Linked DNA regions of Homo sapiens. The protein of the gene in region 1 interacts with the protein of each later gene in a pairwise test. Each region holds a gene or a part of one and is shown in the gene's direction. Other genes may lie near its edges.

The links. The genes of interacting proteins can lie anywhere in the genome.
Region 2: the proteins of PLEKHM2 (region 1) and RAB9A interact in binary tests that used the Homo sapiens proteins (3 or more experiments, as listed by UniProt).

Annotation. Positions count from the first base shown.
Region 1 is NC_000001.11:15,686,191-15,695,050, forward strand, and holds part of PLEKHM2 (pleckstrin homology domain-containing family M member 2), read left to right. Parts: intron 1-8,860. UniProt on the Homo sapiens protein: Plays a role in lysosomes movement and localization at the cell periphery acting as an effector of ARL8B.
Region 2 is NC_000023.11:13,705,106-13,711,334, forward strand, and holds the end of RAB9A (ras-related protein Rab-9A), read left to right. Parts: intron 1-3,615; 5' UTR 3,616-3,641; coding exon 3,642-4,247; 3' UTR 4,248-5,399; downstream 5,400-6,229. UniProt on the Homo sapiens protein: The small GTPases Rab are key regulators of intracellular membrane trafficking, from the formation of transport vesicles to their fusion with membranes.

The DNA of each region.
Region 1 (8,860 bases):
TAATTGTAGGTGTTTGGACAAGGACACTTATTGAGCTGGAATGCACCCCAGAAAATGTCACACTAGAAACTGCAAACCCATCCCTGGGTGTATCACAACCAAAGCCATGGGCAGCATCATTGTTAGGAGCATGGATTCTGGAGTCCAGCTGCCTGATTGAATCCCCGCCCTGCCAAATTAATAACCCTGTAACCTTGGTCAGGCTTATTAACCTCTCCATGCCCAGTTTCTTCATCTGTAAAGCAGGGATAAAATTAGGGATGTTGTGGAGTGTTTTTTTGTTGTTGTTGTTGTTGTTGTTTGTTTTTGAGACAGAGTCTTGCTCTGTTGCCTGGGCTGGAGGGCAGTGGTGTGATCTCGGCTCACTACAACCTCCACCTCCCAGGTTCAAGCGATTCTTCTGCCTCGGCCTCTCGAGTAGCTGGGATTACAGGTGTGCGCCACCACACCCGGCTAAATTTTTTTTTTTTTTTTTTGAGACGGAGTCTCGCTCTGTCGCCCAGGTTAGAATGCAGTGGCCTGATCTCCGCTCAGTGCAAGCTCCGCCTCATGGGTTCACACCATTCTCCTGCCTCAGCCTCCCAAGTAGCTGGGACTATAAGCGCCGGCCACCACGCCCGGCTAATTTTTTTGTATTTTTAGTAGAGACGGGGTTTCACCATGTTAACCAGGGATGGTCTCGATCTCCTCACCTTGTGATCTGCCCGCTTCGGCCTCCCAAAGTGCTGGGATTACAGGCGTGAGCCACGGCGCCCAGCGTCTAATTTTTGTATTTTTAGTGGAGATGGGGTTTCCCCATGTTGGCCAGGCTGGTCTTGAACTCCTGACCTCAAGTGATCTGCCTGCCTTGGCCCCCCGAAGTGCTGGGATTACAGGCATGAGCCACCGTGCCCGACTACTTTTTGTATTTTTTGTAGAGATGGGATTTCGCCCATATTGGTCAGGCTGTGTTATGAAGATTTTGTTTGTTTGTTTTTTGTTTTTTGTTTTTTTTGAGATGGAGTCTTGCTCTGTCACCCAGGCTGGAGTGCAGTGGCGTGATCTCAGCTCGCTGCAAGCTCCGTCTCTCAGGTTCACGCCATTCTCCTGCCTCAGCCTCCCGAGTAGCTGGGACTACAGGTTACAGGCGCCCGCCACTATGCCCGGCTAATTTTTTTGTATTTTTAGTAGAGACGGGGTTTCACCGTGTTAGCCAGGATGGTCTCGATCTCCTGACCTCATGATCCGCTCACCTCGGCCTCCCAAAGTGCTGGGATTACAGGCATGGTGAAGTTTTAATAAACATGTAGAGTGTTTAGCATGGATCCTGGCCCAGTCTTAACTGGTAGCTTTTTTCTTTGTGCAAGAGCCCATTCCTCAATTTTACAAGGTTTGAAGATGGCTCAACTGCCTCACCACCTAAAGGTCGTTCTACAACACCATTTGTTCTTGGTAGCCACTTCCTTTGTGTGTTTGTTTGAGACAACTGCGATGTGATTCTTGCATCATAAATTACATTTGGTTTTCTGAATCAGAGTGTCTGCTTTACTAGGAACCTGTTAGTTTGGCTACAGCAGTAGACATTGAGGACAGCAGTCTTGGGGTCAGATTTGTCCTTGAATGCCAGTCTCACCTAAATGTGTTATATAGCACCTTGAGAGTTGCTTTGCCTTTTTTCTTGCATCCTACCACCAGTAAATGGTCTTACTGGTCATTTTATAAGGATTTTACGTGAAGAAAATGAGATGCATATTTCTGCAAGGAAAGATCCATTGTGTATTTCTATATTTGCAAAGAGTACTTTAGAACTTTTTATGAAAATGAAGCATGCCTACAGGAAAGTGTACAGGTCCTGAGCGGACAGCTTAATGAGTTCTCACAAAGTGAAAACACCTGCATATCCAGCACCCTGACCAAGAAACAGAACATGACCATTATCCCAGAGGGCCCCTCGTTCCCCTCCCAGAAACTACACCCTCAAAGCAACCACTATCCCCAAGGAGTATTGTTGAGTTCAACTATTTTCACACTTAGATTTTGTGATGGTGAATACCCATTATAACACCAGACAGGTGAAACAGCTGTTAATCCATCTGAATCCAAGGCAACCTGTGTTCTGATATGGACACAGAATTCCTGAGGGTGAGAGAGAACTGGAGAGTTTAATAATTAACATGATTAAATGAAAATGATAACAATAGGCCAGGCATGGTGGCTCACGCCTGTAATCCCAGCACTTTGGGAGGCCAAGGTGGATGGATAACTTGAGGCCAGAAGTTCAAGACCAGCCTTGCCAACATGGTGAAACCCCATCTCTACCAAAAATACAGAAATTAGCTGGGTGTGGTGGCGCGTGCCTGTAGTCCCAGCTACTTGGGAGGCTGAGGCAGGGAAGCACTTGACCTGGGAGGTGGAGGTTGCAGTGAACTGAGATCGCGCCATTGCACTCCAGCGTGGGTGACAGAGGGAGACTCTGTCTCAAAAAAAAAAAAAAAAAAGGAAATGATAACAATAGCAAATTCAATTCATATTCAATTCTAGAAAGGGAGCTAGTAGCAGAAACATCCCAGATGCTGCCAGTAAAGCCTGTGGTTGCCGATTTGTTAAAGAGAAATGTCCAAGTCAACGACAGCTTTGGCATTTTTGAATCAGCATGTGGTTCTACTAAATAACATCTTCTCCAGGGGAGGGAAGGCAGGCAGTGATTTTCCCAAGTTCTGTTTTTGAGGAGCTGGTGTGTCTGCTGCATATGCCTGCAGAATGAGCAAAGACTATATGCCATAAGAAGCAACCTCCTGGCCAGGCGCGGTGGCTCATGCCTGTAACCCCAACACTTTGGGAGGCCGAGGCGGGCGGATCACCTGAGGTCAGGAGATCGAGACCGGCCTGACCAACATCGAGAAACCCCATCTCTATTAAAAATACAAAATTAGCTAGGTGTGGTGGTGCATACCTGTAATCCCAGCTACTCGGGAGGCTGAGGCAGGAGAATCGCTTAAACTCGGGAGGCGGAGGTTGTGGTGAGTTGTGGCACCATTGCACTCCAGCCTGGGCAAAAAGAGCGAAACTCCGTCTCAAAAAAAAAAAAAAAAGAAAGAAAGAAATACTGGTAGAGTTCAGAGAAAGAGAAGAAGCAGGCATTCAAGACAGAAGAAACAGCCTAGGCATCCCCAAGGAAGTGGGGCCTTCCAGATGGTCTTCCGAGGACAGGCGTGACCTGTCTTAAGAGGGACCTGTCTTAAGATTGCCAAGGGTTCTGCAAGATGCGGCTGGAAGGTGCTTTCTGTGGAAGCCATGTAGCCTAGTGGACACAAACGCAGGCTTCAGCGGTATGCAGACTTGGGTCTGGGTTTGTAACTGACCATCTCGATCCTGGCAGATGACTGGACCACTGTTCGCATCAGCAGTGAGAACCTTCTACTAATGCTATAATGATAATTCAATTATATGAGAGAACACACTTACAGCACTTAGCACAATACCTTGCTTACAGTCAGGCCTAAATAAAAGCCACCATTACTACTTGCAAGCGTCTCTGTGGACTCTGCAGATCACCCTTGTGCAGTCTTCAGTGAGTGGTGGTGTTTTTTGTGTTTTTGTTTTTGAGACGGAATTTCGCTCTTGTTGCCCAGGCTGGAGTGCAGTGGCACGATCTCAGCTCACTGCAACCTCCGCCTCCCAAGTTCAAGTGATTCTCGAGCCTCAGCCTCCCAAGTAGCTGGGATTACAGGCATGAGCCACTACGCCTGGCTAATTTTGTATTTTTAGTAGAGACAGGGTTTCGCCATGTTGGCCAGGCTGGCCTCAAACTCCCTACCTCAGGTGATCTGCCTGCTTCGGCCTCCCAAAGTGCTGGGATTACAGGTGTGAGCCACCGCACCCAGCCGAGGTTTTTTTTTTTTTTGTTTTGTTTTTTTGAGACAGTCTTGCTCTGTCACCCAGACTGGAGTGCAGTGGCATGATCTTGGTTCACTGCAACCCCCTCCTCCTGGGTTCAAGCAATTCTCGTGCCTCAACCTCCAAGTAGCTGGGATTACGGGCACAGACCACCACGCCCTGCTAATTTTTGTATTTTTAGTAGAGACAGGGTTTCACCATGTTGGCCAGGCTGGTCTCAAACTCCTGGTTTCCAGTAATACACCCACCTTGGCCTCCCAAAGTACAGTCGTGAGCCACTGCCTCCGGCTTCAGTGAGAGTCTTATACTACACTGCTGTTTCTTCAAGCTCCAACTTTTTCTTAAAAGGCCACATGGCAAATATTTTCAGGCCGTATAGTCTTTGTTGAAACTGCTCAGTTCTGCTCAAAAGCAACCAAATGTGTATGAGTGTGGCTTTGTTCCAATAAAACTTTATTTACAAAAATAGGTATCAGGCTGGTTTTAGCCCACAGGCAGTAGTTCGCATACGACGCATGTGTTCATATGAAAAAGTCCTTGCCAAGGTAGGCCAGGGATTACTTCCAGAGAAGTTGGTGCACCAGTGCTATAGTTAACCAAATCTCTATTGTAGCTGTGTTTTTGCACATTAGGCTTGTGGAGTGAATGTGGACACTTGTAAATCCCATCATGTGTCCCTGTATTCAGTTATTCAAAACTATTTAGTGAGCACCTTCCCTAGAACCTCACCATCATAGGCCCTAGGAAGGTTCATATGAACAGGCAGATGAGTATCTGCCCTCATGGAGCTGACATTCTAGAAGAAAAAGAAGGTGATAAATTCGTAGACAAATACAGAGATGATTTCAGATCATGGTAAGCATTATGAAGGCATTAAAGCAATGTGATAAAGAATTGGCAGGGAGGTTTGCTTTGGAGACGATCAGGGAAGATTCCCTAAGGCAATGACATTGCATCCTGCAAGGGACACTGAGTAGGATAAGAGAATGAAAAATGATTCTTTTTGTGTGTGTGTTTGTTTGAGACAGGGTTTCACTCTGTGGCCCAGGCTGGAGTACAGTGGCACCATCATGGCTCACTGTAGCCTTCAACTCCTGGGATCAAGCGATTCTCCCGCCTCAGCCACCTGAGTAGCTGGAACTACAGACATATGCCACCACGTCCAGCTAATTTTTAATTTTTTAGTGTGGAGACAAGGTCTCACTATGTTGCCCAGGTTGGTCTCGAACTCCTGAGCTCAGGTGATCCTCCCACCTCGGCCTGCATAAGTGCTAAGATTACAGGCATGAGCCACTGCACTTGGCCGTAAAATTATTCTAAGAAAATAGTTGTTTTTAAAAACACACAAATAGCTCAGAAGTACATAAAATGAAAAGTAATTGCCCCTGTTCTCCTACCCTTTAAAAGGGATAAATGAATTGTAATAGGGTAACCATCTCTCAGTTCCTGGGTCCTGACAACCTTCTCTCGCCTCAGTCTCCCACCCACTTCGGTTTGGGCAGACAGTGCCTCACCGGCGTCGGCTCTGAGTGAAGTTCTATTTCTGGCCAGGCACACTGCCTTGAGCAGGAGTCTCCCAGTCCCTAGTCGGGATCGGGATTTACTGGCGCTGGTGAATGAGCCACAGCTGTTGTTCAGCCCAGCCTGTCTGTGCAGTTGAAAAGGCTGCCTTGCATGGTGAACTTTTTCTCATTTTTCTACTCCTGAGATAGGTTAGATCTGCAAGTACAAAAAAATTAGCTGGGGGCGGGGAGGCGAGGCAGTGGGCATAGTGGCTCACAACTATAATCCCAGCACTTTGCGGGGCTGAGGTGGGAGGATCACTTGAGTCCAGGAATTCAAGACCAGCCTGTGCAACATAATGAGACCCTGTGTCTTCAAAAATAAAAATAAAAAATTAGGTGGACATGGTGGCACATGCCTATAGTCCCAGCTACTCAGGAGGCTGAGGCAGGAGGGTCACTTGAGCCCAGAAGTTCGAGGCTGCAGTGAGCCAGGATCATGCCATTACACTCCAGCCTGGGTGACAGAGTGAGACCCTGTCTCGGCGGGGGAAAAAAAAAATTAGCTGGGGTAGCTCATTCCTGGAGAGGGACTGGTAGGTAGGTAGATGTAAAAATTGTATTGACTATTTGGTTTAGATCAATAGTTTTGTTCTCTGTGGCTTTACAGAAAAACTCATAAGAGTTTTAAATGTTCTCAAAATCCCTAAGGACCTGAGTCACCAGGACAAAGATTTACATAAAATAGTATCTACACACACGTTACAAACTGAAGTGTTAAGGGTCAGTGTGCCTTCTGCCTGCTCCTCTTCCTCCTTTTCCTAAATTCTCAGTAGCTATTTCCCTTCTTTCCTCTCTCCCAGAGTAAAGGCTGTCTGGTGAGGGCGGGGAGGGACCTGAAGGTCCCTAACCCGGAAACCATGTCGTGCACAGAGGGATCCTGACCCCATGAGTAACTCCACCCAGGCTCAGGAGGAGATACTAGTGGAGAAGTGATAACTGCTTTTTCTGAGCCCTGCCCATTCACTTTTTTCGTTTTTTGGTTTTTTTGTAGAGACTGAGTCTCCCTGTGTTGCTAAGGCTGGTCTTGAACTCCTGGCCTCAAGCCTTCCTCTCACTCCAGCCTCCCAAAGTGTGGGGTTACAGGTGCAAGCCACTGTGTCCATGCCCCATTCACTTTTTCTTTTTTTAATGGAGTTTTGCTCTTGTTACTCAGGCTGGAGCACGGTGGCACGATCTCGGCTCACTGCAACCTCCTTCTCCCTGGTTCAAGTGATTCTCCTGCCTCAGCCTCCCAAGTAGCTGGGATTATAGGCATGCACCACCATGCCCAGATAATTTTGTATTTTTAGTAGAGATGGGGTTTCACCATGTTGGTCAGGCTGGTCTTGAACTCCTGACCTCAAGTGATCCACCTGCCTTGGCCTCCCAAAGTGCTGGGATTATAGGCGCGAGCCACCGTGCCTAGCCACACTTTTTTTTTTTTTTTTGAGACAAAGTCTCTCTCCGTTGCCCAGGCTGTAGGGCAGTGGCGCAATCTCGGCTCACTGCAACCTCCACCTCCTGGGTTCAAGAGATTCTCCTGCCTCAGCCTCCTGAGTAGCTAGGATTACAGGTGCCCACCACCACACCTGGCTAATTTGTGTATTTTTAGTAGGGATGGGGTTTCACCATGTTGGTCAGGCTGGTCTTGAACTCCTGGTCTCAAGTGATCCGCCCGCCTTGGCCTCCCAAAGTGCTGGGATTACAGGCATGAGCCATCTCACCCGGACCCATGCCCGTTCACTTTTAAGATATGGTTCTCCTTTTACGAAATGCTTCTCTGACGTCAGGTTTCTGTTGGAAACCTTGTGACACTGTGTGGTCCTTTCCATCCCATCACAGAACAACCTGGGCTCGCTCTCTCCATGGTTTGGCCATGGCTTAGGCCTATCCAGATTGAAAGGCCCTGTGTGATGATTTGAGGCCAGGCAGAAACTCACTGGGGTTTAACAGAAACAGGTCACCATCTGGCAGCAACAGGCTGTTCAGACGGGGCTGACTGTCTGTGGTCATTCTGCCATTATGGCTAACACTCCGGAGCTTCAGATGGAGCAGTGGTCTCCCTCAGAACTCATCCAGCTGGAGCCCAGTGTGAAAAGAAATTCCCAGCAAAACTAAAATTCTGCTGCCAGCTGACACAAATGTTAGGTCTGGAAACATTGAGTAAGAGGCAGAGTGGTCCACACAAGCCTTAATGTGGAAAGGCAAGAGCTGGTGTTCAGTTCGTGACAGTTGTGGGGAGAAGAAGGTTGGCATTTGCAGGGATTGTGGGGCTCCTGGCTGGGTCATTCCTACCTCAGGAGTCTCCAGTGCCCATCTCAGGCATCAGGATTCACCACCACGGCAGGAGTGTGTTGCTGCTGGAGCTGGCAGTGCCCTTCTGTCCAACGGAAGCAGTAGAGCTTTTCTCATGACAGAAAGCTCTCTGGGTTGCCACCTCTGCTGATAAAACAGGTTTCTTGGCCAGGTGTGGTGGCTCATGTCTGTAATCCCAGCACTTTGGGAGACCCAGGCGGGCAGATCACGAGATCAGGAGTTCGAGACCAGCTTGACCAACATGGTGAAACCCCGTCTCTACTAAAAATACAAAAATTAACTGGGCATGGTGGCACATGCATGTAATCCCATCTCAGGAGGCTGAGGCAGGAGAATCGCTTGAACCCAGGAGGTGGAGGTCGCAGTGAGCCAAGATCGCGCCACTGTACTCTAGCCTGAGCGACAGAGCGAGACTCCATCTCAAAAAAAAAACACAAAAAACAAACAAACAAACAAAAAAACAGGTTTCTAAGCCTGGGATCTGGGAACTGCCATGCAATAGAGAATGAGCAACTCTGGGCCCCGAGCTCTCCTCCTTGAGGGTCTAAACCAGGCAGCAGGGCCGGTTGGTTTGGGTGAAGTCTCCTTTCCAGCCCTATCCTCCTTGGTGTTGCTCATTCCAGGTGCAAACATCCTAGAACTTCCATTTGAGGCAGGTGAATAAGGATGATTTCTGGGAGAGTCCTTTCCGCGGGAGATTAAAGTTTAGGCCATTGATCTATCCGTTATTGAAACCATCCAGGGTCCTGAGAGCTTCTCCTAACCTCTTGCCAGTGAAGCAGGTGGCCCTCTACACAGATATTCTCCTCCATGCTGTGTATTTTGTTTTGTTTTTTTTTTTTGTTTTTTGAGACAGAGTCTCACTCTGTTGCCCAGGCTGGAGGGCAGTGGTGTGATTTCTGCTCACTGCAACCTTCACCTCCTGGGTTCAAGTGATTCTCCTGCCTCAGCCTCCCAAGTAGCTGGGATTACAGGCAGGCACCACCATGTTGGGCTAGTTTTTGTATTTTTAGTAGAGACGGGGTTTCATCATATTGGCCAGGCTGGTCTTGAACTTCTGACATCAAGTGATCCACCTGCCTTGGCCTCCCAAAGTCCTGGGCTTATAGGCATGAGCCACCGCA
Region 2 (6,229 bases), on another chromosome or scaffold:
GGATTTTACTGTTTTTAAAGAAAAAATAATATTTTTAATGTCCATAAGCTGATTGTGGTTATATTAATGTATAGATCAAATGAAACTGGCTTTTGTTAGATGTCACTGGTAAATAAGATGGTGTGTACAATGATTTATATCACCATGTGTGTTTTTATACAACTCTAGAGTTAGAGAGATATTCATGTAGAAATTAATTATTTTAGCAAATGCAAATATATTCCCAAATAGGAATATCTGGTAGGCCTCAAACTGTAGATGGGAAATGTAAAAAATTGTACCCTATACTCTGTTTCCTGGTGGGCTGGCATACCCCAAATTCATTTGGTCAGAATGAGACAAACTAAGAAGTCCCACATTATTATGAAAAAAGAACTGTCAAAGTGTCTTGGAAAAATTACAAATTACCACTTTCAAGGAATTTCTACAACTTAATTTAGTAGATATATGCAACCAATAGTCTGGGTGGGGTTTGTTAGATTGCATGATCTGGCTTATAATTTGATATAAAGATGCTAAAAATTCAGTGATGTACAGTAAAACTTTGTGTCTGGTAAGGCTGTTAGATCAGTAGAGACTTATTAAAATACTGGAATAAATTATGTCTGTTGTACTCTCATAACACAACATGGAAATTGTGTGAAAGGAACAACATTGGGAGAGTTGCTGGGGCAGGGTTCCCAGTGGAGGTGACCATGCTAAGCAGTTCTGAAGGCACAGCGGTTCATTGGGGGGGTCACCAGCAAGGAGCAGCATATGCCAGGGTGGAGGCAAGAGGGTGTGGGGTGTGCTGAGTGAGTGGAATTGAATTTTAGTTCCGGGTGATGGTGCATTCAGAATGACTGAAGCAGAGACTGTGAGGGGAAGGTGGCTAGAGTGAGGCTGGCCAAGAGCAGGGGCCAGGTGTCTTGCCTTAGAAGTTGGACTTAGTCCTGGATCTCTGGGAAACAACCCGCTGAAGAATTCTGAGGAGACATTAGATAGATGGTTCCCCTATGTCAAAATAGTTGGTTTGCTTTTATGGTTTTCAATCTTTTCTTTTTAAGTTGTTGAAGCAAGATGCCAAAGAATTAAAGCAGCCAATTTAGCACATTGTTACCTATGTCAGGAAAGTAAGGGGCTTGGGACTGTTGCAGTTTCCTCTTTAACATTAATAGTCTGGATATTGAGCAATACATTTGAAATTGAAAAAGTCTCTCAAAAGGTATGCACCTTAACTGCCACACACTTGTGTTGGACAGTTTAAATTGTATTAATATTAATTATAGTAGTAATTACTGTAGTATTAATTTGTTTTGTTTTTTGAGATGGAGTCTTGCTTTGTCACCTAGGCTGGAGTGCAGTGGTGCAATCTCAGCTCACGGCAACCTACGCCTCCCAGGTTCAAGGGATTCTCCTGCCTCAGCCTAGTACCTGGGACTACAGGCGCTTGCCACCACGTCCAGCTAATTTTTTTTTTTTTTTTGTATTTTTAGTAGAGACGGGGTTTCACCATGTTGGCCAGGCTGGTCTCGAACTCCTGACCTCAAGTGACCTGCCCGCCTCAGCCTCCCCAAGTGCTGGGATTACAGGTGTGAGCCATCGTGCCTGGCCTGTAGTAGTAATTTGAAAGAACCAGTAAGAGGTAGGGACTAAGGTATGTCCCATCATTTTTTAATAGTATTTCCCATTCACTTGATTTCTCACTATACAAGCCACTACAAGGTTTTTATCAGAACAGTGGAGCATGTGGCTAGAAGTGCAGAATTCCTACATGTTACAGTAAGTGTTCAGTTACACTATAGTTGCTCACATTGCATATAACCAGGAGACAGCCAGATAATGTTTACTGCAGTGATTTTACAAATTCATCCTGGTCAATATAACAATTATTGTTCATGTCTTTATTGCCTTCCCATGGAGGGATTCATAATACCTACTTTCCTATTAAGGTTATTGACCAAATTTGCTCTAGATCTGTGCTCTCCAATTGGCTCATTAAATGTGGCTATTTATTTAAAATTGAATAAAATTTAAAATGCGGTTTTTCACTTCCATCAGCCTCATGTCAAGTGTTCCACAGTCACATGCGGCTAAGTGGCTGCTATATTGGACATTTCCATTGTTGCATAAAATTCTCTTGTACAGTGCTGCTCTAATAGTTATCTTCTTATATACATTTTAGTATACTTAAAAACCATTTAATACTAAAGTACAGATTAAATGATATAATCTGATTCGAAATAACTGGGGAGAAGGGAGAGTTGGAGGGGTTATGGAGGAAACAAGATTTGCCATAAGTTGATAATTGTGAAGCTGGGTTTAGAGTTCATGGGAGCTCATTGTATTGTACTCATTATATAGAAATTTTGTACATGTTTTACATTTTTCACAATAAAAATGTAAGCAGAAGGATTAACCAGGAACTGTGCTCCCACCAGCACCTAGAAGTAGCTGTCTGTCAACGGGCATCTGAAATCTCACCCCCCACAGGCTGGCTCTTGTAGTGTAGTAAAGTTTTTAATCCTGCCACAGGACTTCTAAAGAACACATATAGTACCACATTTTCATTTAAGGTTTATTTCATTCTACCTGAAAACACACAAGTAGCAGCAGTCTCATGTTCCTTAAGTGTTTGAACTGCCCAAGTGAATCTTGTGGATAGAATGTGCTAGATTATATTAAAAATTCCATTGCTGCTGACATTAATTTGAACAAATTCAAAATAATGTTCTTAATGAAGAGAATAAAGTCCATTTACTCAGTGGTTGGTTCATACTTTATTTCACAGCCAGGTAAGTCAGTTTCTGTCTCTGGCTTTCCTGGTTAACAGCACCTGTGTCTGAAGAGAGGTGGAGGGAGTAGTAGAGAAAGTCCCTGGTAGGAGAGAGGCCTTAAGTGAACACCATCACTGTGCACTGAAGGGCTGTTTGAAGTTGTTAAGAGAAACATGTGGGCTGGGCATGGTGTCTCACGCCTGTAGTCCCAGCACTTTGGGAGGCCAAGACAGGTGGATTGCTTGGGCCCAGGAGTTTGAAGCCAGCCTGGGCAACGTGGTTGAGACCCTGTCTCTACAAAAAAATAGAAAAATTAGCAAGGCATGGTGGTGTGCACCTGTGATTTCAGCTACTTGGGAGGCTGAGGTGGGAGGATTGCTTGAGCCTGGGAGTTCAAGGCTGCAGTAAGCCAAGATGGTCCCATGCACTCCAACCTGGGTGACAGCGAGATCCTGTCTCAAAAAAAAAAACAAAACCAAAACAACAACAACAACAACATGCGAACTTTGGTCTCCTACCCATCTCTAACAAATGGTGGGGCTTACTATGAGCAGAGAGGGGCTTATCATAGAGTAACGGTTCAGAGCAAGGGCTTTGGGGTCAGACTTGGGCTTGAGTGCCAGCTTCACAGTCAACTGTGACCTGAGAAAAGGGAAGAGTGAGCCCTTCCCAGCTGTTTCAGAGAATAATGGTAGAATAGTAGCCTGCACATGGCTAAGTGCTCAGTAAACAACAAGTCTTATTATTAGGTATTCCCTGGGGCCATATGTTTTATTTCAGCTAAATGCTGATATTCGTAGAATCATGTAGAAGAATGTGTAGGTATAAAGGAATGTAATGGTGCCTTTTTATTTTACAGGGTTCTTGAAGCTTTTGAGATTAACAATGGCAGGAAAATCATCACTTTTTAAAGTAATTCTCCTTGGAGATGGTGGAGTTGGGAAGAGTTCACTTATGAACAGATATGTAACTAATAAGTTTGATACCCAGCTCTTCCATACAATAGGTGTGGAATTTTTAAATAAAGATTTGGAAGTGGATGGACATTTTGTTACCATGCAGATTTGGGACACGGCAGGTCAGGAGCGATTCCGAAGCCTGAGGACACCATTTTACAGAGGTTCTGACTGCTGCCTGCTTACTTTTAGTGTCGATGATTCACAAAGCTTCCAGAACTTAAGTAACTGGAAGAAAGAATTCATATATTATGCAGATGTGAAAGAGCCTGAGAGCTTTCCTTTTGTGATTCTGGGTAACAAGATTGACATAAGCGAACGGCAGGTGTCTACAGAAGAAGCCCAAGCTTGGTGCAGGGACAACGGCGACTATCCTTATTTTGAAACAAGTGCAAAAGATGCCACAAATGTGGCAGCAGCCTTTGAGGAAGCGGTTCGAAGAGTTCTTGCTACCGAGGATAGGTCAGATCATTTGATTCAGACAGACACAGTCAATCTTCACCGAAAGCCCAAGCCTAGCTCATCTTGCTGTTGATTGTTAGATTGTTGATGCATTCTAACCAACTCACACATATACACAAAATCAACATGGGGATGGAGAAGAGAATTAGCGTTTGCAGCAGTGTATCATCTACTAATAAAATTAAACTAATGTTGCTGCTTCATTAGTTGGTGGGAGAAGGGACACATCCACTCTTGGAGGAATATATTTACTCAATAATGGCACCTTACATTTATAAATTGTAACAGTTGTCTAATAACGTTTCTTTAATTTAAATATGTAAGTTGCAGAGCTAATAAATGAAATGACCAAGACTTTAATTATAATAAAAATAAGAAACTTGACTATTCTAGAAGTTATACTTGGATTTTTTCCTGGGAAAATGGAGAACTACTTTTTATATGTGTATGTTTTTATGCAATTAGCATTGTATTCTTGGTTCAGGGAAATACTTTCCTAAAGCAATAATGTTAGATATTAAAGATTAAAATCTAATGTATTTGCAATGCATTGTTAATTTACTTCTTCATTCTCTTCAAAATGATTTAACCATTCCTGTTTTCATTCTACATACTAGAATTACTCTCACTAGTAATTACTCATCATTTGTGTGCCATTCATGCACCCCCACCCCCATAAATCATGTTCCACAGTCTCAGGCGGAGGGTGGGCCCCCAGTGGTACAAGAGTTGCTTCATACAGTCTGTAATACATCCAGCTAAATTCAAGTTGTCTATGAATGGAAAGCCTTTCCATAGATAGAGTTCAGTTTTAAGAAAAAGGCTAACTACTGAACTTGGAGAACAGACAAATGTGCATTTGATAACTGATGTAATAATTACAATGTACTGTGTGGAAGATACAAAATTACAATTCGATTAATGGACTAAATATTTTTGTTACTTTCTTGACCCTTGGGGAAAGTTTCTTAATTGAAGTTAAAACATTCCTTTATAACACAAGACACAAGCTGACTTTATCACTCTCAGAAGAAATACTAAGAAGGATTGTACTTTGTGAGAGGGTAAACGAAGACATCTTTATTCGGCAATGTATTTACTTAGTGTCTTCTCTATTACTGAACATTTAGTGATTTGCTCTCAAGGAGATTTTTTGTTAGAAAAAGACTTGTTGCAGTGATCAGACTTGATAAAGCAAATTGTGGTCTTTTGTGGATGAAGTTCATATGCTGTGTGGTTGGTGACTATCTGATTCTATGGAGGCTAACCAAAGCCTAGACTGAGTGTGGATGAGACCCTCAACTGGGGAGTGATGGGGATATCAAAGGACATGCTGGGTGAGAGGAGCTGACTGTCATGTAGGGAGTGAACCACTGCCCCCAGCAGAGATACAGTTCGGTTTTAAGAAAAAAGGCAAGGCCAGGCGCGGTGGCTCACGCCTGCAATCCCAACACTTTTGGAGGTCAAGAGGTCGACACCATCCTTGACAACATGGTGAACCCGGTCTCTACTAAAAATACAAAAATTAGTTGGGCATCGTGCCTGTAGTCCCAGCTTCTCGGAAGGCTGACGCAGGAGAATCACTTGAACCCGGAAGGTGGAGGTTGCAGTGAGCCGAGATCACATCACTGCACTCCAGCCTGGTGACAGTGAGACTCCACCTCAAAAAAAAAAAAAAAAAAAAAAAAAGCAAACTACTGAACTGGAGAACAGACAAACCTGCATTTGTTAACTGATGTAACAATTACAATGTGCTGTGTGGAAGATACAAAATTACAATTCATTAATGGACTAAATGTTTTTATTTTTCACCCTTGGGGAAAGTTTCCTAGTTGAAGTTAAAACATTCCTACTATTACTTGTCTTAGAAGAAAACCTTTTTATATTTCTGTACAAACTTTTCATTTTAATATTGTGACACCACCATGCAAGTTCTCACACAATATCCGTGTCTTGTAGAGTAGTGAAGTGTTTGTTAAGTAGAAAAACACACCAGTGTGGTACCCAGTGAAAGGTGGTGTCTGGAGAGTCAGTGGTTTCTGGAACTCTGGACTG